Linked DNA regions of Homo sapiens: regions 1 and 2 are each linked to region 3. Evidence: fine-mapped expression QTL. A gene starts in region 3. Each other region holds a variant in brackets. All regions are shown on one strand. Distances are between the middles of the regions.

Region 1 (10,688 bases), 120 kb after region 3:
CCAAGTTTATAGAATGGCTACTGTGAACCAAGCCTTTGCACTAAGTGCTAGGAGACATGAAATGACACTCATAGCCCAGTGGCCAGTGGGCAGCCTCCTGGGGGCAAAAAAAGGCACACATTAATTCATTTTATTTTATTTATTTATTTTTTGAGACAGGGTCTTGTTGTGTCACCCAGGCTGGAGGGCAGTGGCACAATCTCAGCTCACTGCAACCTCCACCTCCTGGGTTCAAGCAATTCTTGTGCCTCAGCCTCCCGAGTAGCTGGGATTACAGGCACATGCCACCACACCCGGCTAGTTTGTGTGTGTGTGTTTGTGTTTTTTTGTTTGTTTGTTTTTGTTTTGTTTTTTGGTAGAGATGGGGTTTCTCCATGTTGGCCAGCCTGGTCTCGAACTCCTGATCTCAGGTGATCCACTCATCAGTCTCCCAAAATGCTGGGATTACATGCATGAGCCACTGCACCTGGCCTTGACGCACATTAATTCAGACGTAGTCATTTTGGTATGGGACTGAGTGCTAAGCTGTGCAATGCCAAGAGGCCGGGGAAGGGAAGAACCACAGGATTTAGAAGAACTAAGCGAGGCCCAGAGTCTGTGCTGAGAGGCAGATTCCCAAGGAGGGTGTTGCCAGATTTCAGAGGTTCTTCGAGTGCAGGCCAGGAAAGGAACTTTCCTCTGAACTGTGATCATGGTTATAATTAACAACACATTCAATCTGTGGCATCTGCATGCTGCGATTCTCACCCGAACTCCACGAAGCAGGAATACAATGAGTATCATCCCCATTTGTCAGATGGGGAACTAAGTTCTGCTGGAAAGTGACAGAGCCAACACTTTTGACTTTCTGGTGGGGACAGGAGCCAGCAAAGCCTAGTTCTGAGTCAAGGGGTTACATAATTGTTTAAAGATGATGCCTTCTGTTTGTAGAGAGCTTGGCTATTTACATGAAAAGCATGTGATTTCCTGGCATGCTTTTCATTTGCTCTCCTAACGCCAAGAGGAAGGCAGGGATGATGGAGGGTCCCCATTTTGCAGAGGAGGAAACTGAGGCCCAAAGAGATTATGGGCCTTGCCCAGGTCATAAAACACGGAGATGGGGCTGGACGAAGTGGCTCATACTAGTAATCCCAGCACTTTGGGAGACTGAGGCAGGAGGAGGGCTTGAGCACAAGAGTTCCAGACTGGCCCCAGAAACATAGGGAGACCCTGTCTCTAAAAAAAATTTTAAAGCAGTGGGGCATGATGGTGTGCACCTGTAGGCCCAGCAGAAGCAGGAGGGATCACTTGAACCCAGGGATTTGAGACTGCATTGAGCTATGATTGCAGCGCTGCACTCCAGCCAGGGTGACAGAGCAAGACCCTGGCTCAAAAGAGAGAAAAAAAAAAAGTCCGGGTGTGGTAGCTCAAGTCTGTAATCCCTGCACTTTGGGAGGCCAAGGTGGGTGGATCACTTGAGGTCAGGAATTTGAGACCAGCCTGGCCAACATGGTGAAACCCCATCTCTACTAAAATTACAAACATTAGCCAGGTGTGGTGGTGCATGCCTGTAATCCCAGCTACTTGGGAGGCAGAGGCACGAGGATTGCTTGAACCTGGGAGGCAGAGGTTGCAGTGAGCTGAGAGATCGAGTCACTGCACTCCATCTTGAGCAACAAGAGCGAGACTCCGTCTCAAAAAGAAAAAAAAAAGAGAGAGAGAGAGAGTCCCTTTTCTCTCTGACCCAGGATCACCAGGGAGAGGAAAGAGAAGAGATGGAGTGAATGAGACAGCTGTGGTCAGCAAGGCGTGTCCATCTTCCACGACCGACTCCTTCCCATTCAATCCCCTGCCTTGGGATCCTGCTTCTTCCCTGCATAGGCAGAAAGTACCTACCAACTTCCCTTCTTCCCAACTCCCTGCTCTGAGTACTGCGCTAGGAGCCAACTCAGCCACCTCCTGCAGCCCCAGCTCTCCATCTTAACTGCAGCCTCTCGCTCTTGGGTACTCACTGACTCAAATCCTCCCTCTGGGCCCAAGCATCAGGCTGAACAAAGACCTGTCCCTAGTTCACAGGTCACCTAGGATTCTTTTTTTTTTTCTTTGAGATGGGGTTTCGCTCTTGTTGCCCAGGCTGGAGTGCAATGGCGCGATCTCAGCTCACTGCAAACTTTGCCTCCCGGGTTCAAATGATTCTCCTGCCTCAGCCTCCTGAGTAGCTGGGATTACAGGCATGTGCCACCACACCTGGTTAATTTTGTATTTTTAGTACAGACAGGGTTTCTCCGTGTTGGTCAGGCTGGTCTCGAACCCCGACCTCAGGTGATCCACCTGCCTCAACCTCCCAAAGTGCTGGGATTACAGGCGTGAGCCACTGTGCCTGGCCAGTCACCTAGGGTTCTGCTGGAACTACTGAACTGTAGTTCAGTAGGTGATCTTACCACAGTAGGGTTTGTTGCTGGAGTTGCATTAGCTAAACAGGGTCTTTTAGACACTGGAATCTAAGCTGAAGGCTAATAATATTATTTGAAGATGGTGAAAGTTAATTCTACTAAAATTCCATCATAAAACTGTGGCATTGTGAAGGATTGTTGGCAACAAATAAATAGACGATAGTATAGTTTCTCAATTTATGGGAGTCATGGCCAAATGTCTCTAAACTCCCTTCTTTATTTAAGAAAATTGATTATTAAAAATGGCCAGTGGTTCACGCCTGTAATCCCAACACTTTGGGGGGCCAAGGTGGGCGGATCACCTGAGGTCAGGAGTTCGAGACCAGCCTGACCAACATGGTGAAATCCCGTCTCTACTAAAAATAAAAAATTAGCTGGGTGTGGTGGTGCATGCCTGTAATCCCAGCTAGTTGGAAGGTTGAGGCAGGAGAATTGCTTGAACCTGGGAGGCGGAGGTTGCAGTGAGCCAAGATCGTACCATTGCACTCCAGCCTGGGCAACAAGGGCAAAACAAGATAAAAAAAAAATTACGTGACCGGGCGCGGTGATGTACACTTGTAATACCAGCACTGTGGGAGGCCAAGGTGAGAGGATCACTTGAGGCTGGTAGTTTGAGACCAGCCTAGTCAACATAGTGAGATCCCTGTTTCTATAAAAAATTTGCTGGGCTACTAAAAAATAGACTGTAGTTCCAACTACTTGGGAGGCTGAGGTTGTAGTGAGCTATGATTGAGCCACTGAACTCTAACCTGGGTGATAGAGCAAGACACTGTCTCAAAAAAAAAAGTGACTGCCACACATAAATTTCTTTCTTTTATTATTATTATTATTATTATTTTTTGAGACAGAGTCTCACTCTGTCACCCAGGCTGGAGTGCAGTGGTGCGATCTCGGCTCACTGCAACCTACCCCTCCTGGGTTCAAGAGATTCTCCTGCCTCAGCCTCCTGAGTAGCTGGGACTACAGGTGCGCACCACCATGCCCAGCTAATTTTGTATTTTTAGTACATACGGGGTTTCACCATGTTGGCCAGGCTGATCTTGAACTCCTGGCCTCAGGTGATCTGCCCACCTTGGCCTCCCAAAGTGTTGGGATTATAGGTGTGAGCCACTGCACCCAGCCAACATCATAGATTTCTGGCTTTAAAAAAATCTTGGCTGTACTGATTGAGCCTCCTCCCCAATCTTACAGAGGAAGGAACTAAGACACAGAGAGGGTGAGAAAAGTTCCCAAAGACACACAGCAAATTTAGGACTGGGCTCCAGTTCTCTCAAGGGCTTTTCCACAGCCCAAGGTCTCTCACACCTGTTCCCACAGCTGCCAGTCTTGTCAAGGTTGCCAGTCTCTGGGGCGTTGCTGGTTCCTGGCTCCCTAAAATACAGGGCCCAAGGGTCCTCCCCCACTTTCCTGTCCTGCCGTGAGCCCCCCACCCCCACTTCCAGACGGATTGGGAGCTGTGACCCCCAGCTCTGTGGTCCCAAAGGGAGGTCAGCTAAAGCAGCTACCAGGGGACTTATTGCCCAACAGGGAGTGGCTATGATCAATGTCTTCTGCTCCTCTTCCCTGGGTTAACCATTTCCTGGCCCTGGCCCCTCTGTTAATTCCTCTGCTAACCTGGTATGGAGGAAGGGTGGACAAGGGCTTGGGATGGACACCATTGATATCCCCAGGTCTGACATAAACAGGCAGGGGGGTGCTCTCAGTCCTCAGATGTGATCCCTGCCTGAGCTCTGTTGGCATTCCATGGCGAGGCTCTTCAGCCTCATTTGGGCAGAAGCGGTCCTGGGGATTGCAAAAGGGCTTTCTTTTTCTTTTATTTATTTCTTTTTAGAAACAGAGTCTCCTTGTGTTGCCCAGGCTGGAGTGCAATGGTACAATCATAGCTCACTGCAGCCTTGAACTCCTGGGCTCAGGCGACCCTCCCGCCTCAGCCTTCTTTGTAACTGGAACTACAGGTGTGCACCACCATGCTTAGATAATTTTTGTATTTTTTGTGTAGAGGGTGGGTTCTCGCTATGTTGCCCAAGCTGGTCTCGAACTCCTGGGCTCAAGCAATCCTCCTACCTTGGCCTCCCAAAGTTCTGGGATTACAGGCACAAGCCACCGCGCCCGGCCATTTCTTTTCTTTTCTTTTCTTTTCTTTTCTTTTCTTTTCTTTTCTTTTCTTTTTGAGACAGATTTTTGCTCTTGTTGCCCAGGCTGGAGTGCAATGGCGCGATCTTGGCTCACTGCAACCTCTGCCTCCCAGGTTCAAGCAATTCTCCTGCCTCAGCCTCCCGAGTAGCTGGGAGTACAGGCATGCACCACCATGCCCAACTAATTTTTTGTATTTAGTAGAGATGGAGTTTCACCATGTTAGTTAGGCTAGTCTTGAACTCCTGACCTCAAGTGATCTGTCAACCTCGGCTTCCCAAAGTGCTGGGATTACAGGCATGAGCCACCGTGCCCGGCCTCCGGCCATTTCTTAATATGATCCAATTACATACCTACTGATAAATATTTATCATAACTTTTCCTATTGTAAACAATGTTGCAATTAATATCTTTGGGTATCCGCAAATTTGTGCAAAGTGCATGTATTTCTGTAGCAAGTTTCCTAGAAATGTTAGGTCAAAGATATGCACATTTGAAAGTTCAACAGTCATTGTCAAATGCCTTCTAAGAAGTTTTCTGGCCAGGCACTGTGGCTCACACCTGTAATCCCAACACTATGGGAGGCCAAGGTGGGTGG[A/G]TCACCTGAGGTCAGAAGTTCGAGACCAGCCTGACCAACATGATGGAACCCCATCTCCACTAAAAATACAAAATTAGCCGGGTGTGATGGCACATGCCTGTTAATCCCAGCTACTTGGGAGGCTGAGGCAAGAGAATTGCTTGAACTCGGGAGGTGGAGGTTTGCAGTGAGCTGAGATTGTGCCATTGCTCTCTAGGCTGGGTTGACTCCTCCCCCAAAACAAACAAACAAACCAAAAAACAAATGCCTTCTAAGAAGTTTTCACCGGCTGGGCACAGTGGCTCATGTTTGTAATCTCAGCACTTTGGGAGGCTGAGGCAAGCGGATCACTGGAGCCCAGGAGTTTGAGACCAGCCTGGGCAACATAGTGAGACCCTATCTCTACAATACAAGCAAGCAAAAAAAACAAACAGAAATTAGCTAGGCATGGTGGCTTGTGCCTGTAATCCCAGACACCCCGGGAGGCTGAGGTGGGAGAACTGCTTGAGCCTGGGAGGTTGAGACTGCAGTAAGCTGTGACGGCACCACTGCACTCCAGCCTGGGCAACAGAGTGAGACGCTGTCTCAAAAAAAAAAAAAAAGTTTTCACCAACATTCTTTTTTTGTTTTGTTTTGAGACAGGGTCTCGCTCTGTTGCTCTGGCTGGAGTACAGTGGCTTGATCATAGCTCACTGCAGCCTTGAACGCGTAAGTCCTCCCGCCTCAACCTCACAACCAGCTGGGACCTACAGGCACATACTGCCATGCTTGGTTAATTTTTAAATTTTTTGTAGAGACAGGGTCTCACTGTTTTGCCCAGGCTGGTCTCTAGCCTCAAGCGGTCCTACCATCTCGGCCTCCAAAAAGCACTTGGGATTACCAGCATGAGCCACTGCACCTGGCCACCAACCTACAGTCTTATCATCACTGAGTTCGTATCTACCTGCATCCTGTCCAATACTCCGTACTACCAATCTTTCAAATTTTTGTCGGCTGGGCACAGTGGCTCATGCCTGTAATTCCAGCACTTTGGAAGGCCAAGGCAGGCAGACTGCTTGAGCCCAGGAGTTTAAGACCAGCCCGGGAGACATGGCAAAACCCCATTTCTGCAAAATATACAAAAATTAGCTGGGCTTGGTGGCATGCACTGGTAGTCCCAGCTACTCCAGAGGCTAAGATGGGAAGATCACCTGACCCCGGGGGTTTGAGGCTGTAATGAGCCAAGTCATGCTGCTGCGCTCCAGCCTGGGTGACAGAACGAGGCCCTGTCTCAAAAAAAAGAAAAAAAAATTTTTTTTTGGTCAATATAAGAGTCATAGTTTTGATTAGCATTTCCCTTATTACTAGTGAAGCAGAACAGCTTTTCAAATGTTTGCTGCCTGTTTGTATCTCTTCCTCTGTGACTTATCTTTCTCCGTGATTTGCCAGTAGGCATTTGCAGTCCTTTTTTTCTTTTTTTTTTGACTTGGAGTCTCGCGATCTCGGCTCACTACAACCTCCGCCTACCAAGTTCAAGTGATTCTTGCGCCTCAGCCTCCTGAGTAGCTGGGATTATGAGCATGTGCCACCACCCCTAGCTAATTTTTTGTATTTTTAGTAGAGATGGGGTTTTGCCATGTTGGCCAGGCTGGTCTCGAACTCCTGACCTCAAGTGATCCACCCGCCTTGGCCTCCCAAATGCTGGGATTACAGGTGTGAGCCACCACGTCCAGCCGTTTGCAGTCCTTCCTTCACCTAACTCTCCAGTTGCCACTGTTGCCAGTTATAGAATTTTAGGTTTGAAATGGTTTTCTGTTGGAATTCTGCAGACAATGTTCCACTGGCTCTTAGACTCCATGGTTGCTATTGAAAAGCTGGATGCCATGTTGATTTCTGATCCTTGGTATATGACTTGTTATTTTCTATCTGAAAGTGTTTCAGATCTTCTCTTCACCCCTGATAGTCTGAAGTCCAGTGCTTCCATGGGTCTCTATGCTTTCATCACCCTGGACACCTTTTTAATCTAGAGACTTGTATATTTCAGTTCTGGATATTTTCTTGTGCGTTTTTCTTTTTAAAATAATAATTTCTTTTCCTTTGTTCTCTCTTTTTGAACTCCTTTCGTTTGAGGTTAGACTTCCTGGATTGATCCTCCAAACCTGTTTCCTTTTTGTTTCTTTCTCTTTTTTTTTCTCTTCTCTCTAGTTTATTTCCCTCGATTTCAATCTACGATGCTTCTACTGGATGGTAACTTTCAACTCTCATAATTTTAATTTCCCAGAGCTTTTCTGTGTTTCTCTGTTCATTCTTCATGGCATCCTTGGAAGGATGCCAAGCTAAGGAGGCCAGGGGGGAATAAAAGGAGTCCAGGCTCCCAACTGTGCCCTTCCCCTCTCCCCTGGGAGCAACCACTTAGGGTCCTCATGGTTCCTCCAGTCTGGACTCTGCTGCTTCTGGTGGGGGCTGCCCTTTTCAGGTAAGCTGGGCCCAGGGGGTAATGATAAACCAGGGTCAGCTGAGGGTGGCTGTAAGGAATATGGAAGGACAGAGCTGGAGGGGGCGAGCAGGCTAACTACAAAAGATCTGGAGAGAGGCCAGGCACGGTGGCTCACGCCTGTAATCCCAGCACTTTGGGAGGCTGAGGTGGGCAGATCACGAGGTCAGGAGATCGAGACCATCCTGGCCAACATGGTGAAACCTCGTCTCTACTAAAAATACAAAAAATTAGCCAGGCGTGGTGGTGTGCACCTGTAGTCCCAGCTACCCAGGAGGCTGAGGCAGGAGAATCGCTTGAACCTGGGAGGCGGAGTTTGCAGTGAGCTGAGATCATGCCATTGCACTCCAGCCTGGATGACAGAGCGAGACTCCGTCTCAAAAAAAAAAAAACAAAAAAAAAGACCTTGAGAGGAAGGGGGAAACCCGGTGGGATGGAAATGGGTTGACCTTGACTGCTGAACAGGAATTAAGGGGCGGGTTCTGGGAGCGGGACAGGGCTACAATGTGAGAAGGGACGGAGGAGGTGCAGAGCTGGAAGACAGATCTAAGCCTAGGAGAGAAGGATTGAGGGGTCAGGCCCTCAGGAAACGGACAAGACCCAGGGTGGACCCAGCTGATGAGAGAGACTTAAGTACGAGGCAGCAAAGAAATGACGGATGACAGGCCAAGCGCGGCGGCTCACCCCTGTAATCCCAGCACTTTGGGAGGCCGAGGCGGGCGGATCACCTGAGGTCAGGTGTTGAGACCAGCCTGACCAACATGGTGAAACCCTGTCTCTACTAAAAATATAAAATTAGCCAGGCATGGTGGTGCATGCCTGTAATCCCAGCTACTTGGGAGGCTGAGGCAGGAGAGTCACTTGAACCCGGGAGGCGGAGACTGCAGTGAGCGGAAATTGCACCATTGCACTCCAGCCTGGGCAACAAGAGCAAAACTCCATCTCAAAAGAAAAAAAAAAAGAAATGATGGATGTCTTGGTGTCCTGCAGTGTGTTTGGGAGAATTTGAACAAGTAGAACTTCAACAACAACAAAAAACAGAGGGCTGAGCACAGTGGCTCCCACCGGTAATCCCAGCACTTTGGGAGGCCAAAGTGGGAGGATTGCATAAGGCCAGGAGGTCATGACCAGCCTGTGCAACATAGAAAGACCCCATCTCTATAAAAAATAAAAATAAATTAGCTGGGCGTGGTGGCATGCTCCTGTAGTCCCAGCTACTGGGGAGGTTGAGGTGGGAGGATTGCTGGAGCCCAGAGGTTTGAGGCTGCAGTGAGCTGTGATTGTATCACTGCACTCTAGCCTGGGTGCCGGAAAAAAAAAAAAAGAAAAGAAAAAAAGAAAAAAAGTCAAGTCAGACACATTCACTGCATAAACACTGATCATCCTTACGTGACCACTCAGAAAGCTCACAGTCACTGAATCTTATAATTCTTGATAATGACACGAGTTGCATTTTTGCTTTCTTCAAACGACCCCCAAGGAAAGAGAAGCCTCCGGACCAGAAGCTGGTTGTTCGCAGCTCTAGGGACAACTGTGAGTTGGAAACCAGGAGTGCTAAGATTTCTCCTCCCTCCTCCGAACCCACATTCTGCCACCAGAATGCCAGTTCCTGAGTTCCTAGCAGGAGCAGCCACCTCCAGTCCCCTCCGGGCATCAGCCAGGACTACAAAATGTGTCCTGCCAGGCCAAGTCCAGCCCTCCAACCTCAGTTCATGACCCCGGACCTTGTCATTCTGTCCACTCTCCCAGCCCCGAATTTCTCCTAAAAGATTCTCTCTTTCAAATCTCTGCTCTGGGCCGGGTGCTGTGGCTCACACCTGTCATCCCAACACTTAGGGAGGCCAAGGTGGGAGGATGGCTTGAGGCCAGGAGTTTGAGAGCAGCCTGGGCAACATAGTAAGACTCCATCTCCACAAAAAACAGACGAGCAATTTCTGCTCTGGACCCCAAGGCTTTGCAACAGCTTTCTTTTTCTTTTCTTTGAGACGGAGTCTCCCTCTGTCCCTCAGGCTGGAGTGCAGTGGCGCGATCTTGGCTCACTGCAAAGTCCGCCTCCTGGGTTCAAGCGATTCTCTTGCCTCAGCCTCCCCAGTAGCTGGGACTACAGGTGTGCGCCACCACACCCGGCTGATTTCATGGCAGCTTTCTCTAAGTGTAGCAATCTTGCTACTTCCCTCTCCCTGTGTGGCTCTGGGCCCTGCCCCTGCCCTCTCTGAAACCTCACTGTGACCCATTCTTCCTAGATGTCCTCACCCAGTGTGATTTTGAGGATGACGCCAAACCCCTCTGTGACTGGTCCCAAGTGTCCGCAGACGATGAAGACTGGGTTCGAGCCAGTGGGCCCTCTCCCACCGGCTCCACCGGGGCCCCCGGGGGGTACCCTAACGGAGGTGAGGGGCTATGGTTTCCAGGGGACCATGAGCAGGGAGGTGGCTGGGAGGCGGGAGTGGCTAGATGGAGAGAGAAGGGAGGCAGCCAGACCTGGATGCCTGGGCTCTGAGAAGGGGATGGGTGGGGGCAGCCCTCAGAGGTGGCTGGGCCTCAGTGTCTTGGGCTCTGCCTCCCCCAGAGGGCAGCTATCTGCATATGGAATCGAACAGCTTCCACCGTGGGGGAGTGGCCCGCCTGCTCAGCCCCGACCTATGGGAGCAAGGCCCCCTCTGTGTGCACTTTGCCCACCACATGTTCGGGCTGTCTTGGGGCGCCCAGCTCAGGCTGCTGCTGCTCTCGGGTGAAGAGGGCCGCCGCCCCGATGTGCTCTGGAAACACTGGAACACCCAGAGACCCTCCTGGATGCTCACCACCGTCACTGTGCCCGCAGGGTTCACCCTGCCCACCCGGGTAAGGCCGGGGACAAATTGTGGGACCTCGGGGGGGAGTCTGGGTGTTGGAGAGCCTGAGGGTGGGGGTGTGGCAAAAAGGGATTGTGGGGGCCAAGCCATCTGAATTCAGGAAGAAAACTAGGAGCCAGGAGGCCTGGCTGAGGGGCTCATGGGGTTGGGGTCCCCTTATCCTCTTGCAGCTGATGTTTGAGGGAACACGGGGTAGCACTGCCTACCTGGACATCGCCCTG
Region 2 (10,688 bases), 33 kb after region 3:
TGGGATTACAGGCCTGAGCCACCGCACCCTGCCGTTATTTTGTTTTTGAAACAGGGTCTCGCTCTGTCTCCCAGGCTGGAGTGCAGTGGCATAATCTCGGCTCACTGCAACCTCCGCCTCCCCGGCTCAGGCAATCCTCCCCCGTCAAGCTCCCAAGTAACTGGGACTACAGGCACTCGCCATCATCCCCAGCTAATTTTTGTGTTTTCTTTGGTAGAGACGGGGTTTCATCGTATTGCCCAGGCTTGCTTGCTTGGTTTTCTGATTCCCTAGAATGCGGCTTCTCAGAACCCCTCAGCGCTCCCTGCTCCAAATCTAGGCGCCTGGGTGAGGCATTCAAGGCTTTTCTGGGTCTGTCCAGTCTGATACTGGATGCTGCACCCCTCTGATCTCAGACAGTCAGCTCCCTCACCTCCCAAATATGCCACCCTCAGAGCCTCAGTCCCCTGGAACCTCAGCTCCGAATGCCTGCCATCCTTCCCAGGACCGCTGAACAGGGGGGCCAGGAAGGCAGATGGGAGGACTCAGGAGGGGGACCCAGACACCAGAGGCCTGGGCCAGGAGGCAGGGAGGCCCAGTCTGAGCGGATGAGGGGAGGGACACTCGAGAACAGGATGGGGCAGGGCCATCCCTACCTGATGGTGTCCTCCAGGCGCCCCTCCCCCAGGAACTGCAGGAACATGGCCTGGAGGTCGCTCCAGTAGAGTCTGCCCTGGTGGAAATCCAGGTCAGGCTCATAGTTGACATCCTCACTGACCACCAACACAGAGTCTCCGCACGCCTGGCAGGACCCTCGGAAGGCGACGTAGCCCAGTAGGAAGGCTGGCGGGTGGCAAGATGGGGATTCTCTTTATGCCCACCTCTGGACCCCAGAAATCTCCCCCAGCCCAAGCCCTTCACTTCTGGGGAGGGGGACGGCTCTCACCCCCAGTGAAGATCAGCAGGGCCGTCAGGACCAGGTAGGGGGCAGCCCTCCGTCCTGCTGCCGCCCAGGGAATGAGGTTTGGCTGCCTGGGTCTAGAGCCCAGGGGCTCAGGGCCCCTCAGCTCCATGGGGCAGAAGTGGGCCAATGTCTCCGCCCCCTCCTCCCCGTCTTCCTCTTCCTCCTCCAGGTGCCCTTTCCGGGGGCCTTCCACACGCTGGTAGACGGTCTGAGAGGATCTTGGGGACAGTTGTTGCTGTGCAGGCGAGGTGGGCATGAGATTGGGGCAAGAGGCCTGGGGGGTGGGGAGGCATCTGGCAATAATGAGGTCAGTGACTTGGGGGTGTCAAATGAGCATGGTGGTGGGGGCGTGGGGGAGGGGCAGGGGTGGGAAGAAGCGAGGTCAGGACACGGTCCAGGAGGGGCCAGCCTCAGGGGCTTGGGAGGGGGCTGAGGGACTTAGAGAGAAGGCCTAAGGGGTCTTCCCAATCCCACTAGTCTTACCGCTCTCTGGAATAGACCCCAAAGCCGCTCCATGCTTGTGTCCCCTCCTGAAGCCTGCAGGCTGTCCCCCAGCGATAAACCGATAAACCGTTTGTGGGAGCCCTAGGAGGGCCCCTTATCAGTCCTGGCAGGCAGCCTGAACCAAGGCTGCTCCTCACCACCCCCAAGGGTGGGGGCACAGTCCTGGCCTCAGTCCAGCCTTCCAGACGTGGCCCCCGGGTCCAGGCCAGAGCACAAGGGGCTGTGCTCTCCCCTGCCAATCTCTCCACAGCCCCACGCCTGCCTCCTCCCTGCAAAACAATCAATTTTTTGACCTTGGGGCGGACTTTGGCCTCCTAGTTCCCATCAGGGGTGGGGGAAGGGGGCCGATAGTGGGGGAGGGCAGAGACATGGGTGCCCCCTCCCCTCTCCTGCTTTTACCCCTCCCTGGATCCTGGGGACCCCTTCCTAAGCCCCGCCATGCCCAGGTGGAAGATTCACCCCTAAGACATCTGCCCCTTCCTCATCTGGCCTTCAGAGTCCCCCAGTGCCCCGGTCCTGTGACATATCAGCTGTCCTCCCTGTCCTGACACTTGCCCCAGTGGCATTCTAAGCTGGAGGCACCACAGTGGTGTGACTTGGGGGTCTGGTCTGGTGGTGTGCATGTGTGTCTCTTTTGAAAGGTCGTTCTCAGACTCCTGCTGGCTGCTGGAGAAGGAGGGGCACAGGTGGGAGCACATGGTCAGATGAGACCAGCGAGAGCTCCCAGATAGGGGTCCTGGGGTCAGGGATATGTGGGTCAGTGGGGAGGAGTGATCAGAGTCCCCGCCAAGGTGTGGGCAGAGCTGGGTGACCCTGGACAAGTCATGGTCCTCCCTGGGCACCGGCCCGTTTGGTCACCGAAGGACTTGGATCACATGGGTTTCTACCTCTTTGGGTTCTGAGGCTGATGAAAGGCCAGTTAGCCTCACCCCAGAAACATGTCACAGGCATAAACTGCTAAACAGGCAGGGGGCGCAGGTCCCCAAACCCTTCCGAGGGCCCCAAGACAAGTAGCTCTGAAGAGGAGGGCTCAGGGTCCCACCAAGTTTCCCTTTCGGGTTTCCCCTGGGAAACATCAGCTCCTACTCAGGTCCAGAGAAGTTCCGAGCTGCTGGGATGCACCAGCGCCCTAGTCCCCGCCCCATGTCTGTCACCACCAAGAGCCCCAGGAAGGAAGGCATAGCGCATCTCACCTGAGCGCAGGTCCTGGGGTGCTCAGGCGTGCTGCTCCCCTGAGACCTAAGGCCTACGCTGAGGCCCCGCCCACCAGGCCCCACCTCCTGTTCCGCCCATCCAGGCTTCACCTCCTGCTCCACCCACCTCCTGCCACACTCACCCCAGGCCGTGCCCCTCCACTGCACCCTGCAGCCCCTCCCACCTCCCACCACAACTGTTAGCCCCCAGCAACTCCCCCAACCCCCGGTCCTCGTCATGTGGCCCTCCCTGGGTCACAACCCCTAGGAAACCTGAGGAATCCATGGCCCCTGGGGCTGTGTCCCAGCACCCACTGTGGGATCGGCATGGGTGTAGAAGTGAGACTCCCTCCCCTCACCTCCCTCCAGACCCCTGTGCCCACTCCCCACCCCACGGAGGCCAAACTTTTTTTTCTTAAAACATTTTTACTTCTTTCAACCCAGAAACATCACCATTAATGAGGACAAGAGGGAAAGGAGGAGGGGGGCAATGTGGCATGGGGGTTAAGGGACTTCCATCTGAGCTTGGGAGCAGGTGTGTGGGGAGGAGTGCCATCAGGGGCACTTTCGCTCCACGCACTGCTTCCCGCCCTCCTCATATTCCTGCTTGGAGATCCACATCTGCTGGAAAGTGCCCTGGGTGGAGGGGGTAATATCAGGGTCAGGGTGGCCTTGGAGGGAGGTGTGGACAGGCAGGTGCAGCCCCTGGGAATCCTCCAACAGGCCCCAACCACCCCTTGGGTTCACATCCCTCTGAAGCCCCTCCCCACCTCATCCTCCCCTCCTCGGTCTGTCCCCTTTCATATTCAGAGGGAGAGTATCCTCTTCATATCATTCAATCAATAATTCATTCATTCAACAAGTATTATTGAACAGCAGTCTCTGCCCTGAGCTAGGCCCTGTTCCTGAGCTGGGGGGATGGCACGCACAGCCCCAGGCCAGGCAACCTGCACCTGGCACTCAACACCCCCTACACACACACAGTCCTTCCCCACCAGGTGTCCTCTTCTCACTCCATCAGGGCTTTGGAACACCGCCAGTCTCCCTCTTTCCCAAGGAAGATATTCCCTCCACCTCACCATTCCAACACTGTGGCACCCCATCTGCAGCCTTCGGCATTACAACTTGCCCCTTGAGGGTTCCTGCAATGAGCATCTCAGAGTGTCCCTTCTCTCTATTTTTTTAAAATTTTAATTTTAATTATTTTTATTTTTATTTTATTTTTTTGAGATGGAGTCTTGCTCTGTCGCCCAGGCTGGAATGCAGTGGTGCGATCTTGGCTCACTGCAGCCTCCGCCTCCCAGGTTCCAGCGATTCTCCTGCTTCAGCCTGCTGGGTAGCTGGGATTACAGGCGCGTGCCAACACGCCCGGCTAATTTTTGTATTTTTAGTAGAGACAGGGTTTCGCCATGTTGGCCAAGCTGGTCTCAAACTCCTGACCTCAGATGATCCGCCCGCCTCGGCCTCCCAAAGTGCTGGGATTACAAGCGTGAGCCACCGCGCCCAGCCTAATTTTTATTTTTTGTAGAGATGGTGTCTCACTATGTTGCCCAGCCTGGTCTCAAACTCCTGGGCTCAAGTAATCGTTCCACCTCAGCCTCCCATAATGTTGGGATTACAGGCGTGAGCTACCACGGCTGGGCTTCTTTGATCTTTCTCAGCCTACACACATGTGCTGTCCAATGCAGTGGCCACTAGCTTCCTGTAGCTCACCAGCCCTGGTCCAAATTGAGACGTGCTCTAAGTGGAAAATACACACCCAATTTTTTTGGGTTTTTTTTGAGACAGGATCTTGCTCTGTCACCCAGGTTGGAATGCAGTGGCACAGCTCACTGCAGCCTCAACCTTCCAGGTTCCAGTGATCCTCCAACCTTGGCCTCCCAAGTAGGTGGGACTACAGGTATGCGCCACATTGCCAGTTGCTTTTTAAATTTTTTGTAGAGATGAGGTCTCGCTTTGTTGCCCAGGCTGGTCTAGAAATTTTGGGCTCAAATGATCCTCCCGCCTTGGCCTCTCAAAGTGCTGGGATTACAGGTGTGAGCCACTCCACTTGTCCAGGATATATTATTAATACTTAATTTCAGGCCGGGCATGGTGGCTCACACCTGTAATCCCAGCACTTTGGGAGGCCAAGATGGGCAGATCACTTGAGGTCAGGAGTTTGAGACAAGCTTAGCCAACACGGTGAAACCCCATCTCTATTAACAATCCAAAAATTAGCCAGGCGTGGTGGCTCACGCATGTAATCCCAGCTACTCGGGAGGCTGAGGCAGAAGAATCGCTTGAACCCAGGAGATGGAGGTTGCAGTGAGCCAAGATTGCTCCACTGCACTCCAGCCTGGGCGACAGTGAGACTGTCTCGAAAACAAAAACAAAAACAAAAAAAGGAAAAAAACAAGAACTGTGTGGCTGACATGCTTCAGCCCTGAGCTAAGTTCAGACTGCCAGCCTCTGTCTTTCTGACCCTGGTTTCTGTCTCCCTGGGGGACTTCCTTTCTCGTGGATGTCCTCCTTGTCTGTCATGGCCCCACTGTCCCCTCTGTGTGACTGATACCCTCCAGATGCGGGTTGCAACTCCAGCTCCCTGCTCAGTACCTTCCTTCGAACCCAGCAGCAGGTCCAGACTGAACTTACCACCTCCTGCCCCAGAACCAACCTGCCTGCCTCCTTTACTAGTTGCCCCTTGCTGTCCACCCCATCCCCACTGCTACCCATGCTATGACTCCGGGACAATCAAAACAGCCTCCTTGTAAGGTCCCCTTGACCCCAGCTCATACCCCGACCCCAAAGACTCATGCCTGGCAGTCTTTCCAATCATGCCTGCATTGCCACATCACTCCCTTGCCCCAAAACATCAGGGTCTCCCCTCTGCTGACTGAGCACAGTGGGTGTATCACCAAAATCTCATCCTGACCAATCTCTCCAACTACCTGTCCCTCTACTCCCAATTTTTTTTTTTTTTTGAGAGTCTTACTGCGTCACCCAGGCTGGAGTGCAGTGGCACGATCTCAGCTCACTGCAGTCTCCGTCTCCTGGGTTCAAGAGATTCTCCTGCCTCAGCCTCCTGAATAGCTGGGATTACAGGCATGCACCACCATGCCTGGCTAATTTTTGGATTTTTAGTAGAGACAAGGTTTCGTCATGTTGGCCAGGCTGGTCTCGAACTCCTGAGCTCAAGTGATCCACCC[G/C]TCTCGGCCTCCCAAACTGCAGGGATTACCGGCATGAGCCACTGTGCGCAGCCTCTTCTCCCCAGTTTGTAAAAGTAGAGATGGGTCTTGCTATGTTCCCCTGCTGGGTTTTCAACTCCTAGCCTCAAGCCATCCCCCCACTTCAGCCACCCAAAGTGCTGGGATGACAGGTGTGGGCCACCATACCGGGCCCCTGCCCCCCGATTTGTGTCCTGTTCACCCTTCTGGGAACATTCATTGACTGACATTTCTCAAAACTAAATGTTTGTTGAATGAATGAATGAACGAAGAGGCAGTCAAAGTGGCGGGCACTGTCTGGGTCTCCCCTCTCCCCCACAGTCAGTGCTAGGCCAGGTCCCTTTCCTCTCACCAGTGAGGCCAGGATGGAACCCCCGATCCAGGGGCTGAACTTGCGCTCCATGGTGCTGTTGCTGGCAATGAGTTTCAGTCGCATGCTCTGGGGGTAAAAAGGGGCTGGGGGAAGCAGACACCTAGGTTCTGGGAAGGGACAGGGCTTGGGGGAGAGGGGAAGACTTGGGAAGCCACAGGGGCAGGGGTTCTGCTCTGGTGGCCAGAACAGAAGGAAGGACATGGGAAGGATGAAGGGACTCAGTCCTGGACAGCTGAGCCAGGACGGGTGTCCAGGGCTCTGGGTCAGGGGTGGGCTCCTACCGGTGGGGTCTTCTGGGAAAGCTCTCGATTGAGCCTGTCAGTGAAGCCCTGCAGCAGTGTGTTCCCGCCGGTGACAATGACACTCCCGTACAGGCCCTGAGAGCAGGGAGAAGGAGTGAGCTGCGGGGGCAGCCCCCCAACCCCGTCTCCCCACTTCCCCTGGGCCCCTTTGCCGAGCCTCAGCTCCGGCCTGGCCTCACCGGGCGAATATCAATGTCACACATGCCGATGCTGGTGGTCACCACGTGGCCCACACCCAACATGGTGTTCCCCGACAGGCCCTGCAGAGAGAGGTGACTGGGGCTGTGGGCTCTCTCCCCCTTCCCCCCAGACCCCTGCAATCCTTCCCAGCCTCCCCCACGCCCCAGGATCCAGGGACTGCAGCCAGCACCCACCCCAGTCCTCGCCACACAGCCAAACCTTGACGTTCGAGGGATCAAACAGGCCCTCAGGGATGCGGAGTCGCTCGGCGCCGTAGTCTGTATTGTAGCCATTGGGCATCTCGTAGTGCACTGTGGGCATTTGTGCAGCCACCCTACCCAGAAGGGAGCAGGACTCTGCCTGGGGTGCTCAAGAAGGATCAGTGCGTGGGCAGCACCAGAGCCCCCCAGCCCACCCCAAGAGTGCCGGTTCTGCCCTCTCTCCCACCCCAAAGCCCTGAGCCACACTCACTGTTCATCGTAGGGGGAGTCTGAGACCTGCAGCACGGAGGCCTGGAAGTCCTGGATCACCTCCTGAAATCCCAGCGGAGGTGGTGAGGGCCTGCCTTCCCCGTGAGCAGCACCCCCTGCCCCGCTCCCCCTCCCTGCTCCCCCTCCCATGCGGGGCCTCTGTCCCGCCCCCGATTCATGGCAGGGGAGGGGGGTTTCAGGTGGCCCTCTCCAGAGGCTCACATTACACATGTAGTTATGCCAGGACTTGGAGACCTGGGGTAGCTTCTCCTTCTTCTTCCAGTTTGGGGGGGCACCCTCCCGGACAGGCTCCTGTGGGGGCACAGTGTAGGAACACCCTTTCCTAGCCCACCTGACCCCCACCCCCACCTTCCTGGCACTGTTCCCAGCTCTGCAGCTACCTGGCGCTGCAGGCTCTGCTGTGCTGCCTGCAAGAGGGGTTTCTCACCCTTCCCTGATGGAGAGGAGAGAGAATGGGGCATGCCTCTCTCTCCATGTGTGCCTTTCATGCGGTGGGTGCAGCTGATCTGGAGAACACCAGGAATACAGCAGTGACAGAACCTCAAGGGAATGGCCTCCTAGGGGGTCATGATCCATGTGAGGGCACGGAATGGAGCTAAGCACACAGTGTCACTTCATACTCACAGCACCCTGGCTACTGCCTACTGCCGTTCCACTTTACATAAGACAAACCTGAGGCCCAGGGAGCTTTGATATCATGCTGTTGGTCACACAGCTCTTTTTTTTTTTTTTTTTCAGATGGAGTCTCACTCGGTCGCCCAGGCTGGAGTGCAGTGGCGCGATCTCGGCTCACTGCAACCTCTGCCTCCGGGGTTCAGGTGATTCTCCAGTCTCAGCCTCCCAAGTAGCTGGGACTACAGGCATGCACCACCATGCTTGGCTAGTTCTTGCAGTTTTAGTAGAGACGTGGCTTCACCATGTTGCCCAGGCTGGTCTCGAAGTGAGCTCAAAGCGATCTGCCTGCCTCAGCCTCCCGAAGTGCTGGGATTACAGGTGTGAGCCACCATGCCTGACCGGTCCTGCAGCTCTTGCACGGCAGAGGCAGAACTTGAACCTGGGTCTATATTGGACCCTAGAACCCACCACACTGGCCCTCACACATCCTGCTGTCTGCCAGCTGGTTTCATGACCTCAGCATATCCCTCAGCCTGTCTGGATTTCGGATGCCTCGATTATAAAAGGAGGAACTGGAGCCAGGACCCACTGGGGAGCCTGCTGCTCTCTGCTCTGATATCTCATGTGTCAGAGGGTTGACGGCCATGGGGCGAGTGGCCAGGACTCTAGTGGCAGCTCCATGTCCCCAGAGGCCCCACCTTGGCTGCGATCATGTAAGGTGGGATGATGTCAATGGCCATCTCCTGGAACAGCTCCCGGCACTGCATGGAGATGAAGTCCCCTGCCAGAGGGGACTTGACGATGCCTAGAAGGAAGGCACTGTCAGGACCTGGTCCTCCTGGAGCACCCCCACCCCCTGCCGAAGCCCCACCTTGCTGCAGAACGTAGCCGTCATGTACTGGAATGGCCGTGGTGTGGGTGGCTCCACTGTCCAGCACGAGGCCAGTGGACCGCCCGTTTGCAAAGCTGGCATCGGATGGGTAAGTCAAAGAGACAGCAGCAGCAAGTGAGGGGCCTGGGCCCAGATCTTGTCTGGTCACTCTCTGCTCTACCGGGGTCCAGCCCATCCCCAGTCTGCAAATCTCTCCCCCTGGTGATGACTCATCTCCTGGAGAAAGGCTCTGAGACCCCAGTTACTTCTTTTTTTTTTTTTTTGAGATGGAGTCTTGCTGTCTCCCAGGCTGGAGTGCAGTGGCGCAATCTCAGCTCACTGCAAGCTCCGCCTCCCGGGTTCATGCCATTCTCCTGCCTCAGCCTCCCGAGTAGCTGGGACTACAGGTGCCTGCCACCACGCCCGGCCAATTTTTCGTATTTTTAGTAGAGATGGGATTTCACCGTGTTAGCCAGGATGGTCTCGATCTCCTGACCTCGTGATCTGCCCGCCTCGGCCTCCCAAAGTGCCGGGATTACAGGCATGAGCCACCACACCCGGCGACCCCAGTTACTTCTTTAGTTATTTTTTTTTTTTTGAAACTGAGTTTCGTTTTGTCGCCCAGGCTGGAATGCAATAGCTCACTGCAACCTCTGCCTCCTGGGTTCAAGAGATTCTCCTGCCTCAGCCTCCCAAGTAGCTGGGACTACAGGTGCCCACCACTATGCCTGGCTAATTTTTCCATTTTTAGTAGACACGGGCTTTTGCCATGTTGGCCGGACTGGTCTCTAACTCCTGACCTCAAGTGATCTGCCCGCCTTGGCCTCCCAAAATGCTGGGATTACAGGCGTGAGCCACCGCGCCTGGCCAGCCCCTTTATTTTTGGTTGTGTCCTACAGATTCCCTGAAATTAGGGTCGCTATCACCCCAGTGCATAGCACAGGGTTCAATGCAAGGCAGATCCTAAAAACAGTCAGTGTTGAAGGAGTTCTTGGGAAGGGACTGCCGCAGTGTTCTACACGTCTCCCTCCTCTGTCCAGTTCCAGCCCCTACTCTCTCCCGGGCCCAGCTCACTGTCTGCTCAGCCTGATCCGGGGAACCGAAAGGGGCCGCTGATCTGGCCACCCCAGAGTCGGAGGTGCTCAGTCCACTGGGCCTTCTGCACTAGTGGGGCAGAGGGAGGTGTCTGCCCATTGGGACACTGATCTTCAGAGAACCAGGCCTGACCCTCCAGCTCATCACAGCTGAGCTCAGCACAGGCCCCACCCCAGCCCTCCACCCAGTCAGAGCAGCTCAGTCCAGAGGATACGCGGTGAGCACAGCCGTCTTGCATAAGAAGAAGGCAGGAATGTTGTACTGCTCGAACATCAGCTCTGTCAGCTTCTCCCGCTTGGCCCGTGTGTTCCACTGTGGAGAAAGTGCAGAGGGGGAGGATTCAGGAAGGGAGAGGCACAGACCCACATCCACGCACACGCAACCCACTCACTCACACATACACTCACGGTCACACACACACATCCAAACACTTGCACACACATACACAACCTAAACACTCACACATACACTCACGGTCATACACACATGCATTCACTTGCACACACACACACATACACTCAAACACACACACATACACTCACATTCACAGACACACATAAACACACACATGCATTCACACTATACATACACTCACGGTCACACATGCAAACACACTCACAAACACACGGTCAAACACATATATACTCACATTCACACACAAACTCACACACACACATACACATATATTCACACTCACAGTCACACACACATGCATTTAAAACATTTGCACAGGCCAGACAGGGTGGCTTACGCCTATAATCCCAGCACTTTGGGAGGCCGAGGCAGGAGGATTGCTTGAACCCAGGAGTTCGAAACTAGCCTGGACAACATAGTGAGATGCTGTCTCATTAAAAAAAAAATTTAAAGTAAGGAGCTTGTGGGAATTAAAACTACATGAACAGAAATGAAAAACTC
Region 3 (10,688 bases):
GGGGAGGAAGGGGAAACAGACTGAAGGGGGCCATTTCAAAAAGTTCTGACCTGGGCTGTGGCTCACACCTGTAATCCCAGCATTTTGGGAGGTCCAGACAGCAGGATCGCTTAAGCCTAGGAGTTTACCATAGCAAGACCCTGTCTTTTCAAAAATAAAAAATTAGGCTGGGCTGGTGGCTCACGCCTGTAATCCCAGCACTTTGGGAGGCCAAGGCAGGCAGATCACCTGAGGTCAGGAGTTCAAGACCACCCCGGCTAACATGGCAACACCACATCTCTACTAAAAATACAAAAATTAGCCAGGTGTGGTGGTACACACCTGTAATCCCAGCTACTCGGGAGGCTGAGGCAGGAGAGTCGCTTGAACCTGGGAGGTGGAGATTGTAGTGAGCCGAGATTGTGCCACTGCACTCCAACTTGGGTTACAGAGTGAGATTCTGTCTCAAAAAAAAAAAAAAAACTTAGCCAGGCGTGTGGTCATAGCTACTCCGGAGGCTGAGGTGGGAGGATTGCTTGAGCTGGGAAGGTCGAGGCTTCAGTGAGCCATGACTGTGCCGCTACACTCCAGCCTGGGCAACAGAGCAAAACTCCATCTTAAACAAACAAAAAAGTTCTTCCTTGGCTACATTCACTCATTGATTCATCTGGTACTCACTGGTGCCTCCTTCCTGCCGATGACCCCTACTGGGTGCTAGGACCGGAAGCCTGACAGAGCTCTGAACAGTTCAAGTCAATGAGGCTGTTATGGGGACAGTGCTCCCTCCTACCTGCTGAGCAGGTCACCCTCCACCCTCCTCCCTCCTAGATGCACCCACCTGCCCAAAGCAGTGCCGCCGGACAGGCACCTTGCAGAGCAACTTCTGTGCCAGCAGCCTTGGTAAGAATACCCCCAACCCCATTCCAGCTCCTCGAACCACCTCCTGCTTCTGTTTCCAGTCCTGCCATCTGGAACCTCCCATCTCCTCATCTCTCACTCCCATTCTCCCACAGTGGTGACTGCGACAGTGAAGTCCATGGTTCGGGAGCCAGGGGAGGGCCTTGCCGTGACTGTCAGTCTTATTGGTGCTTATAAAACTGGAGGACTGGACCTGCCTTCTCCACCCACTGGTGCCTCCCTGAAGTTTTACGTGCCTTGCAAGCAGTGCCCCCCCATGAAGAAAGGTAACAGAGATGTGGGGAAATGGGGATGGGTCAAGCTAAGCCACACAGAAATGATCAAGGTGTGGAATCTTGAGACCTGCTGACAGGTCTCAAGAATAAGAGATCTCAACCCCTCCCTCCTTCTTCCAGGAGTCAGTTATCTGCTGATGGGCCAGGTAGAAGAGAACAGAGGCCCCGTCCTTCCTCCAGAGAGCTTTGTGGTTCTCCACCGGCCCAACCAGGACCAGATCCTCACCAACCTAAGCAAGAGGAAGTGCCCCTCTCAACCTGTGCGGGCTGCTGCGTCCCAGGACTGAGACGCAGGCCAGCCCCGGCCCCTAGCCCTCAGGCCTTCTTTCTTATCCAAATAAATGTTTCTTAATGAGGAATGGGTCAGATCTCCATGCTTATGGTATTGGGGTCCATCTTGAGGATTTCTTTTCATTAATTAATTAACTCAACACATATTTACTATACAGAATAATCGTTTAAGAATGTGGCCAGGGGTGGCTGCTCACAGCTGTAATCCCAGCACTATGGGAGGCTGAGTCAGGAGGATTGCTGAGGCCAAGAGTTTAAGACCAGCCTGGGCAACATGGCAAAACCCCCTCTCCACAAAAAAAAATACAAAAATTAGCCAGGCGTGGTGGTGCACACCTGTAGTCCCAGCTACTCAGGTTGAGGTGTGAGGATCGCTTGATCCCGGGGAGGTAAGACTGCGGTGAGCTGTGACTATGCCACTGTACTCCACCTGGGGGAACACAGTGAGACCCTGTCTCAAAAAAAAAAAAAAGAATGTAAGTCACAGGCCAGGTGCAGTGGCTGATGCCTGTAATCCCAGCACTTTGAGAGGCTAAGGTGGGAGGATCACTTGAGGTCAGAAGTTTGAGATCAGTCTGGGCAACATGGCCAGATTCTGTCTTTACAAAAAATAATTAGCTGGGCATGGTGGTACTCATCTGTGGTCCCAGCTACTCAGGAGGCTGATGTGGGAGGCTTGCTTGAGCCCAGGACTCTGAGGCTGCAGTGAGCTATGATCACACCACTGTACTCCAGCCTGGGCAAAAGAGTAAGACTCTGTCTCTAAAAAAGTAAAAAGAAAAGATGTCATGTCTTGGCGGGGCGCGGTGGCTCATGCCTGTAATCCCAGCACTTTGAGACGCCAAGGCAGGCAGATTACTTGAGGTCAGGAGTTTGAGACCAGCCTGGCCAACATGGTGAAACCCCGTCTCTACTAAAAATACAAAAAAATTAGCTGGGCGTGGTGGCGGGCACCTGTTACTCAGGAGGCTGAGGCAAAAGAATTGCTTGAACTCAAGAGGTGGAGATTGCAGTGAGCTGAGATTGTGCCACTGCACTTCAGCCTGGGCAACAGAGTGAGACTCCGTCTGAAAAAAATAACATAAAATAAAAAAGAAAAGAAAATATGTCACATCTTTTTTTTTTTTTTTTTTTTTTTTTTTTTTTTTTTGAGACGGAGTTTCACTCTTGTTGCCCAGGCTGGGGTGCAATGGCGCAATCTCGGCTCACTGCAAACTCCGCCTCCTGGGTTCAAATGATTCTCCTGCCTCAGCCTCCCGATTAGCTGGAATTACAGGTGCGCACCACCACACCCAGCTAATTTTGTATTTTTAGTAGAGATGGGGTTTCTCCATGTTGGTCATGCTGCTCTCGAACTCCCAATCTCAGGTGATGCACACCCCTTGGCCTCCCAAAGTGCTGGGATTGCAGGCGTGAGCCACCATGCCCGGCCGATTATGTCACATCTTGTCCCTCCTTTACTCAAAACTTTCCTGTAGTTTCCTAAGTCTTACCAAGGGTTCAAGGCCCTATATCATCTGCATTCTCTCTCCTGCCTCGTAGCTTCATGTCTATTATCTCCTATGTATCATCTGTTCCAGTCACATTGGCAACTTCAGTTTGTTGCCCATTTCTTTTTTTTTTTTTTTTTTTTTGAGATGGAGTCTCGCTCTGTCACCCAGGCTGGAGCACAGTGGCATGATCTGGCTGGACTGCAGTGCAGTGGCGATATCTCGGCTCCCTGCAACCTCCGCCTCCCAGATTCAAGCGATTCTCCTGCCTCAGCCTCCCGAGTAGGTGGGACTACAGGCATGTGCCACCACGCCCGGCTAATTTTGTATTTTTAGTAGAGACGGGGTTTCACCATGTTGGTCAGGCTGGTCTCGAATTCCTGACCTTGTGATCTGCCCGCCTCGGCCTCCCAAAGTGCTGGAATTACAGGGGTGAACCACCGCACCCGGCCTTGTTGCCCATTTCTAGTACACTTCTGTTTTAGGCCTTTGCTATTTCCTCTATCCAGAATTCTCTCCCATAGACATATCTCATGGTTCACTTCCTAAATCCAGTCAGATCTCTGCTCAAAGTTCATCCTAGTCACTCATTCATTTGTTCATTCCAAATGGTAGGCACTGTCATAAGTCCTAAAGATACAACAGAAAACTAAACAAAGTCCCTGCTCTTGTGAAAAGGAAAAAACATTCTACTGGAGGAGAGAGAAACAATAAAATAGGAGGTCATGTATCACTATAAGTGCTATTAAAAAAACAAATACAGGGCAGGGAGCGGTGGCTCACGCCTGTAATCCCAGCACTTTGGGAGGCTGAGGCGGGCGGATCACAAGGTCAGGAGATCCAGACCATCCTGGCTAACATGGTGAAACATCATCTCTACTAAAAATACAAAAAATTAGCCGGGTTTGGTGGTGGGTGCCTGTAGTCCCAGCTACTCGGGAGGCTGAGGCAGGAGAATGGTGTGAACCCGGGAGGTGGAGCTTGCAGTGAGCTGAGATCGCGCCACTGCAGTCCGAGATTGCGCCACTGCAGTCTGGCCTGGGTGAAAGAGCGAGACTCCATCTCAAAAAATAAACCAAACCAAACAAAACAAAAAAAACAAATACAATTAGCCGGGTGTGAAGTCGCGCGCCTGTAGTCCCAGCTACTCAGAAGGCTGAGGTGGGAGGATTGGTTGAGCGCAACCAAGCAGGTGGAGACTGCAGTGAGCTATGATTGTACCACTGCCCTCCAGCCTGTGTGACAGCACAAGACTGTCTCAAAAAAAAAAAAAAAAAAAAAGAAAAAGAAAAAGAAAATGTAAAAGAGAACACGGGGATTCTACACAAGATGTTCAGAGGAGACTTTCAGATAAGATCAACTTTGTCTTTGCTCCATTGCTAACTGGGTGCCCTCAGAGACCCAGATTCTTCACCTTATCCAGGCTGTAAAAGGAGTTGAAGATTCGATGCAATTAAAGTGGCAGGGTTTAGCAAATCCTTTTTTAAAATATATAATTACTCAAACAACATGGGTTTGAAATCAGCAAATCTTAATTCCCTGTGCAAATGTGAGTGATTTCCCACGTCCCTCACAGGAAGGTGAGAAACAGGAGGCAAGACTTAGTCTGGAGTCCCAGATGGGAGGAACCTCCAACCCATAGAAAACAGACTTTGAGCCTGGGGAAGGAACAGTGGCTCTCATGCACTTTGGGAGGCTTAAGTGGGAGGATCGCTTGGGCCCAGGAGTTCGAGAACAGCCTGCAGAACATAGCGAGATCGTCTCTACAAAAAATTACAAAAAGCCAGGCATGGTGATGCACGCCTGTAATCCCAGCTACTCGGGAGGCTGAGGCAGGAGAATCGCTTGAACCCAGGAGTTGGAGGCTGCAGTGAGCAATGATAGCGCCACTGCACTCCAGCCTGGGCGACAGAGTGAGACTCTGTCTCTAAAAAAGCAAAAAAGAGGGCGGGCACGGTGGCTCACGCCTGTAATTACAGGACTTTGGGAGGCTGAGGCAAGTGGATCGCCTGAGGTCAGGAGTTCGAGACCAGCCTGACCAACATGGTGAAACCCCGTCTCTACTAAAAATACAAAGAATTACCCGGGCGTGATGGCGCACGCCTATAATCCCAGCTACTCGGGAGGCTGAGACAGGAGAATCGCTTGAACCCTGGAGGCGGTGGTTGCAGTGAGCCGAGATCGTGCCATTGCACTCCAGCCTGGGTGACAGAGCGAGACTTCGTCTCAAAAAAAAAAAAAAAAAAGCAAAGAAAACAGGCTTGGTTCCTGCAGAGGCTTCTAGAGCCTGGAATGAAGAGGAGGAAAAGGGCTTCCCGGTGGGAGATTGACTTGGACCATCTCAAGAATAGGGAGGAAAGAACAAAGCCCAGTTCGAAACCCCGCCCCCGGTTCTCTGAGTTACTTCAGGGCTCGAGTTCGAGCCAGTACAACTGTTACGTCACCGGAATCCAGCCAATCGCAGACGACAGAAGGAGGGCGTTGTTTGGTCTTTCAGCACACCAATCGGCGTATAGTTACGGCAGAAACAAAGACGTCCTAGCCAATGACAGAGGCCGTACGGCGGAAGTATAGAAAAGGACTCTCTGGAACATGGCAACATTAATCTGACCACAAGCTGACTGGCAGGTGCTTTAACCACAAGGTGGGCATCCTAACGCGAGCGACCGTTTTGAGGCAGAAGCCCGATGGGGCCCGTGTCCGAGCTTAGGGAGGGGCCGGAGACGCAAACACAGGTCTCCCAGGAAGCAGGCGGCGTCACAGGTCGCTCTGCAGGCGCCCGCTGCAGCGGGCGGAGTCTGGCTGGAGAGAGGAGGCGGGCGTCCGGGAACGCCCGGAAGGGGCGAGGCCAGCGGCGGGGCGGGGCTTATGGAGATCGTGAGCTGGGCGTGAGGAGAAGGCCGGGTTGGGAGCTGCGAGGGGCCGGGTTTAGCGGGGTGGGCGTGGCCGTCGAGGTGGGGCTCGGCGGGTCCGAAGGAACCTGGGGCAGAGCTGGAAGAGGAAAGGTCTTGGGGGCCCTGGGCCTGGGTCTGCGGGAGCCCCATCTAGCGGGGTTCCAAGGCGGCGGCGGCATCAGTCGAGGCCCTGCTCCGGGAGCTCATCTTGTCCCCTTTCGCCCCTCACGCCCCCCAGCTCTGACTCCAGGCCCTGTCCCCTGAGCTCTGCCCTCGGATGTCCGACCGCCCAGAGCCTGCATGCGCCGTGGGGCGCCCCAGGACCAGGAGCTGGTGGGTCCGGGGCCCCCTGGGCGGGGGTCCCGGGGCGCCCCTCCTCCCTTGGGACCCGTTGTCCCGGTCCTGGTCTTTCCCCCGGATCTAGTATTCAGGGCGGACCAGCGGAGCGGACCCCGACAGCTGCTGACCCTCTATAACCCCACAGGAACTGCGCTTCGCTTCCGAGGTAAAGGGATCGGCGCCTCGTGGGGGCTGGTGGCCGGACACTGGGGGGTTGTGTTGGCTGGAGGAGTCAGATGGGTAGGGTTGCACGTCCAGCTTTGGTGGACTGGGAAAGTCATGTCCAGCCTCCGGGGCAGAAGGCAGAGGGGACTTAAATGACCCACATGGCAGGGCTTGTCTGTGTGTGTCTCTATCCCCCAGTCCTGTGCACAGCACCTGCCAAATACACGGTGTTTGACGCAGAGGGATATGTGAAGCCCCAGTCTTGCATTGACATGTGAGTGAGCTGGGAGGGTGGGGAGGCTTGTGGAAGCCAGGGGTCGCTGCCACCTGTTGTCTGAGGTCTGAGACCTTGCCCCCTTTAACCTATTTGCCCTATCCTCTGCCTGTGCCCCTAAGGGAGAGACTTCTGGGGGGAGGCCCAGATTTCCTTGGATTACTGCCTCATTCACCCCAATGGGCTTCTCTCCTACCTTGGGACCAGTGTGATTCGCCATGTGGCACCCATTCCCAGCCACTATGATGTCCAGGACCGCTTCCGCATTGAGCTGTCTGAGGAAGGAGCTGAGGGCCGAGTGGTGGGACGCAAGGACATTACCTCCATTCTGAGAGCCCCAGCGTACCCCCTTGAGCTTCAGGGACAGCCAGATCCAGCGCCTCGCCCAGGGCCTCCTGCTGGGACACCACCACCCACGGCCAGACACTTCCAGGAGCGTGAGTTGGGAGACTGGGATCTTGAGTTCTGTAGGGAGGGAGGAACTAGCATTTCCCTAGAGATGAGATAAATTGGATTTGAAGAAGTCTCCTGGTTCAGTCTTTTGTCTTTTGGTGGAAACATTCCTCCGAGTTGAGATTTTATATCAGGTGAGGGGGAAAAGACTTACAGCTTCCCTGGTTTCTGACTTCTACTTAGAGGAAAAAGTTCTTCCTTGACTGTAACCGCAGTACTTCCTATCATGTGGTAGCTCAGTTCAGTTCAATAAGAAACCTGTATTGAGCAATTAACCCTGTACCAAGTTGTGTGCTGGGTATGAGATCAAGAGAGGTCCCTGCCTGTCGGATAGGTCCACAGAAGAGAGAAAATGAATGCTGAGGGACTGGAGGAGAGAGTTCTTGTGGTGGTGGGGACAGAGGCTGTAGGAAGGAGAGGACACTTGCAGTGTACCCCTGGAGGGCAGTAAAAAGTAGATACAGGGTGTGATGGCTCACGCCTATAATCCCAGTGCTTTGGGAGGCTGAGGTGGGCTGATAACCTGAGGCCAGGAGTTCAATACCAGCCTGACCAACATGATGGAACCCCGTCTCTACTAAAAACACACAAAAATTAGCTGGGAGTGGTGGCTCGCACCTGTAATCCCAGCTAGTCGGGAGGCTAAGGCAGGAGAATCACTTGAACCTAGGAGGCAGAGGCTGCAGTGAGTCAGGATTGTGTGGCTGCACTCCAGCCTGGGTGCAACAGAGTGAGACTCCGTCTCAAAAAAAAAAAAAAGTAGATACAGGGTGTGGTGACTCACACCTATAATCCCAGTGCTTTGGGAGGCTGAAGTGGTGGGAGGATTGCAATTGCTCGAGGCCAGGAGTTCAAGATCAGCTTGGACAACATAGCAAGACCATCTACAAACAACTTAAAAATTAGCCGGGCATGGTAGCATGAACCCATAGTCCCAGCTACTTAGGAAGCTAAGGCAGGAGGATCACCTGAGGCCAAGAGTTCCAGACCAGCCTGGACAACGTAGTGAGACTCCATCTCTACAAAAAATAAAAGATAATTAAAAAAAAAAAGTAGATACATCTTCCTTGTTCAGGCTTCTCCCTGGAGGACCTGGGCTGGGCAGGAGTGGGGGCTGCAGCATCTGATGAGTCTTGTTTCTCAGACCCCCGCCAGCAACTGGCCACCAGCTCCTTCCTCCTCTTCTTGCTGACGGGGATTGTGTCTGTGGCCTTCCTGCTGCTCCCACTCCCGGACGAACTCGGCAGCCAGCTGCCTCAAGTCCTGCACGTCTCCCTGGGACAAAAGTTGGTGGCCGCCTACGTCTTGGGTGAGGACAGTAGTGGCCAGGGACCCAGGCCCCAGGAAAAAGGGAGAAGGGACGGGAGGAGAGCTAACAGAGCCCCAGGGCTGCCCATGCGACCCTATTCTTTCTTTGTCCCCCCTCCAGGCCTCCTCACCATGGTGTTCCTCCGGACCTGAGCTCCGTGCTCAACCCCCAGCCCACCCCACCCTCCCTGGGCAGGGTCTTGAGGCAGCCACTGTGATGCTCATACCTTACCTTGCCTCCTACCCTCTTCTCTTTCCTGCCTACTCCCCACTCCTCCCTGACAAAAAACACCCAGGGATTTGTACTCATTTTCCAAGTTGAATAAAATACATTTTTAAAATGATAATCAGAAATGTAGGGTACTTGCCCCTGTCTTCCCACTTCTTTTTTGGTACTCAGACATCCTCTAGTTCTCCCACCCCTGTTCCCAGGGGACCCAGGCACTTGGGGCAGTGATGAGGCCCAGCGAGGATTTAGAAGAGTTAGGTCACTCCTGGTGCTTGCGCTGAAAAACTATGTGACCATGAGCAAATTATTTAATTTCTCTGAGCTGTAGATTCTACCTACAAAATGAGAGCATTGGGCAAGTTGATTCTCAAGATCCCCTTCAGCCCTGGAATAGGATCCTGTCCCTAAGCCAATGTATTAACCTAAAAAGAAATGAATGAAAATACCACCTAATCCTGCCTGCGGTGGAACTCCTGTCCCACCATCTGGAGGCAACAAAGCCTTTCACCAGGGTTACCTGGGTGTTTACAACCCCTAGAATCCTTTTCTGCCTTTTGGACCCTATATCTGTTTTCCTGGGTCTTTCCTTTAAGACTTCAACTCCCTTGGCTGGGCACAGTGGCTCATGCCTGTAATCCCAGCACTTTGCAGGGCCGAGGCGAGTGGATCACTTGAGGCCAGGAGTTCGAGACCAGCCTGGCCAACATGGTGAACTCTTGTCTCTAAAAATACAAAAAATACACCCAACATGGTGAAATTTTGTCTCTAAAAATACAAAAATTAGCTGGACATGGTGGTAGGTGCCTGTAATCCCAGCTACTCAGGAGGCTGAGGTAAGAGAATCATTTGAACCTGAGAGGTGGAGGCTGCAGTGAGCTAAGATTGTGCCATTGCACTCCAGCCTGGGCAGCAGAGCAAGACTCCATCTAAAAAAAAGAAACAAGGCTTCAACTCCCATGGATCAGAAACACCAAAGTCCCTACCAATATGGGGGAAATAGTATTGCTTGACATAACCTCACCTTAACCAGGAAAAAAAAAAAAAAAGAAAAAACTAGGGTACAGGAAAAGAATAAGATTTACAAAAGCAAGCTTCCAGCTCACCTGCCCTCCTTCAGGTGCAGGGTGAGGAGAAACAGAGGAAGAGGGAGAATGGCCAGGCTCAGTGGCTCACATCTGTAATCCCAGTGCTTTGAGAGACCAAGGTGGGAGGATTGCCTGAGCCCAGGGTTTCAAGACCAGCCTGGACAACATAGCGTAGACCCCATTTCTACAAAAAAAATAAAAAGGAGGGAGAGCCAGTGACTCTGGGCAGATGGTTGACTGGGAACAAAGATCAGCAAGATATTAAGACAGACCCAGGCTGTCACAGCACTGGAAGGTGATCAGTTGTTCCAGCTTTACTTTAGGGGCATTGGGACCTGCTCCACTACCCTGGGAGTCTTCTCCCTCTCACACCCAGAACTGGCTCCAGTGGGGTGTGGCCCTGATACTGCATGGAGAATGGGTGTGCCGTTTGTGTCCAGGAGTCTGGGGACAGCTCTTGCCATAGCCCAGGAAACCCCTTTGCTAAATTACATGTGTATGGAAGATATCCGTTCACACCAGTCTGGATGCGCCCAGGTCCCCAAAACGCATTCGAGGTGCCACATAGGTTAATGGTCTTGTGAGTACTTGTGAAAAGACCTTGTTACTGGTGTGGTCAAGAAGGCTTTCTGAGGGGCTGGGGGCAGGGGCTCACGCCTGTAATCCTAGTGCTTTGAGAGGCCAGAGCAGGAGAAGAGCTTGAGGCCAGAAGTTCAACACTAGCCTGGACAATATAGCAAGAGCCTGTCTCTAAAAAAAAATTTTTTTTTTTTGAGATGGAGTCTCGCTCTGTCGCCCAGGCTGGAGTGCAGTGGTACAATCAAGGCTCACTGGAACCTCCACCTCCTGGGTTCAAGTGACTCTCCTGCCTCAGCCTCCTTTGTAGCTAGGACTACAGAGGTGCGCCACCACCCCTGACTTATTTTTGTATAATTATAGAGAGGGCTTCACCATGTTGGCCAGGCTGATCTCAAACTCCTGACCTCAG

The links.
Region 1: its variant is fine-mapped to the expression of MOSPD3 in whole blood (GTEx, PIP above 0.99).
Region 2: its variant is fine-mapped to the expression of MOSPD3 in whole blood (TOPMed, PIP above 0.99).

The regions. Positions count from the first base shown.
Region 1 is chr7:100,726,625-100,737,312 of GRCh38, forward strand. ZAN (zonadhesin) reads left to right here and starts at 6,971. Exons shown (of 48, transcript NM_003386.3): 1 at 6,971-7,024; 2 at 7,403-7,597; 3 at 9,096-9,148; 4 at 9,859-10,005; 5 at 10,185-10,456; 6 at 10,638-10,688. The coding sequence starts at 7,545. The variant A/G (reference allele first, on the strand shown) is at 5,164.
Region 2 is chr7:100,640,051-100,650,738 of GRCh38, forward strand. TFR2 (transferrin receptor 2) reads right to left here and starts at 1,502. Exons shown (of 18, transcript NM_003227.4): 1 at 1,427-1,502; 2 at 926-1,178; 3 at 636-822. The coding sequence starts at 1,459. ACTL6B (actin like 6B) reads right to left here. Exons shown (of 14, transcript NM_016188.5): 5 at 9,988-10,085; 6 at 8,679-8,773; 7 at 8,506-8,612; 8 at 7,394-7,483; 9 at 7,173-7,234; 10 at 6,921-7,035; 11 at 6,701-6,781; 12 at 6,501-6,596; 13 at 6,199-6,285; 14 at 3,047-3,276. The coding sequence ends at 3,196. RefSeq lists enhancers at 9,273-9,819, 9,820-10,364. The variant G/C (reference allele first, on the strand shown) is at 5,829.
Region 3 is chr7:100,606,645-100,617,332 of GRCh38, forward strand. It overlaps MOSPD3 (motile sperm domain containing 3), which reads left to right and starts at 5,896. Exons shown (of 5, transcript NM_023948.5): 1 at 5,896-6,352; 2 at 6,550-6,625; 3 at 6,833-7,062; 4 at 8,223-8,387; 5 at 8,508-8,733. The coding sequence starts at 6,148. The coding sequence ends at 8,539. It overlaps PCOLCE (procollagen C-endopeptidase enhancer), which reads left to right. Exons shown (of 9, transcript NM_002593.4): 7 at 808-879; 8 at 993-1,163; 9 at 1,293-1,531. The coding sequence ends at 1,459. RefSeq lists an enhancer at 5,489-5,758 and a silencer at 5,879-5,938.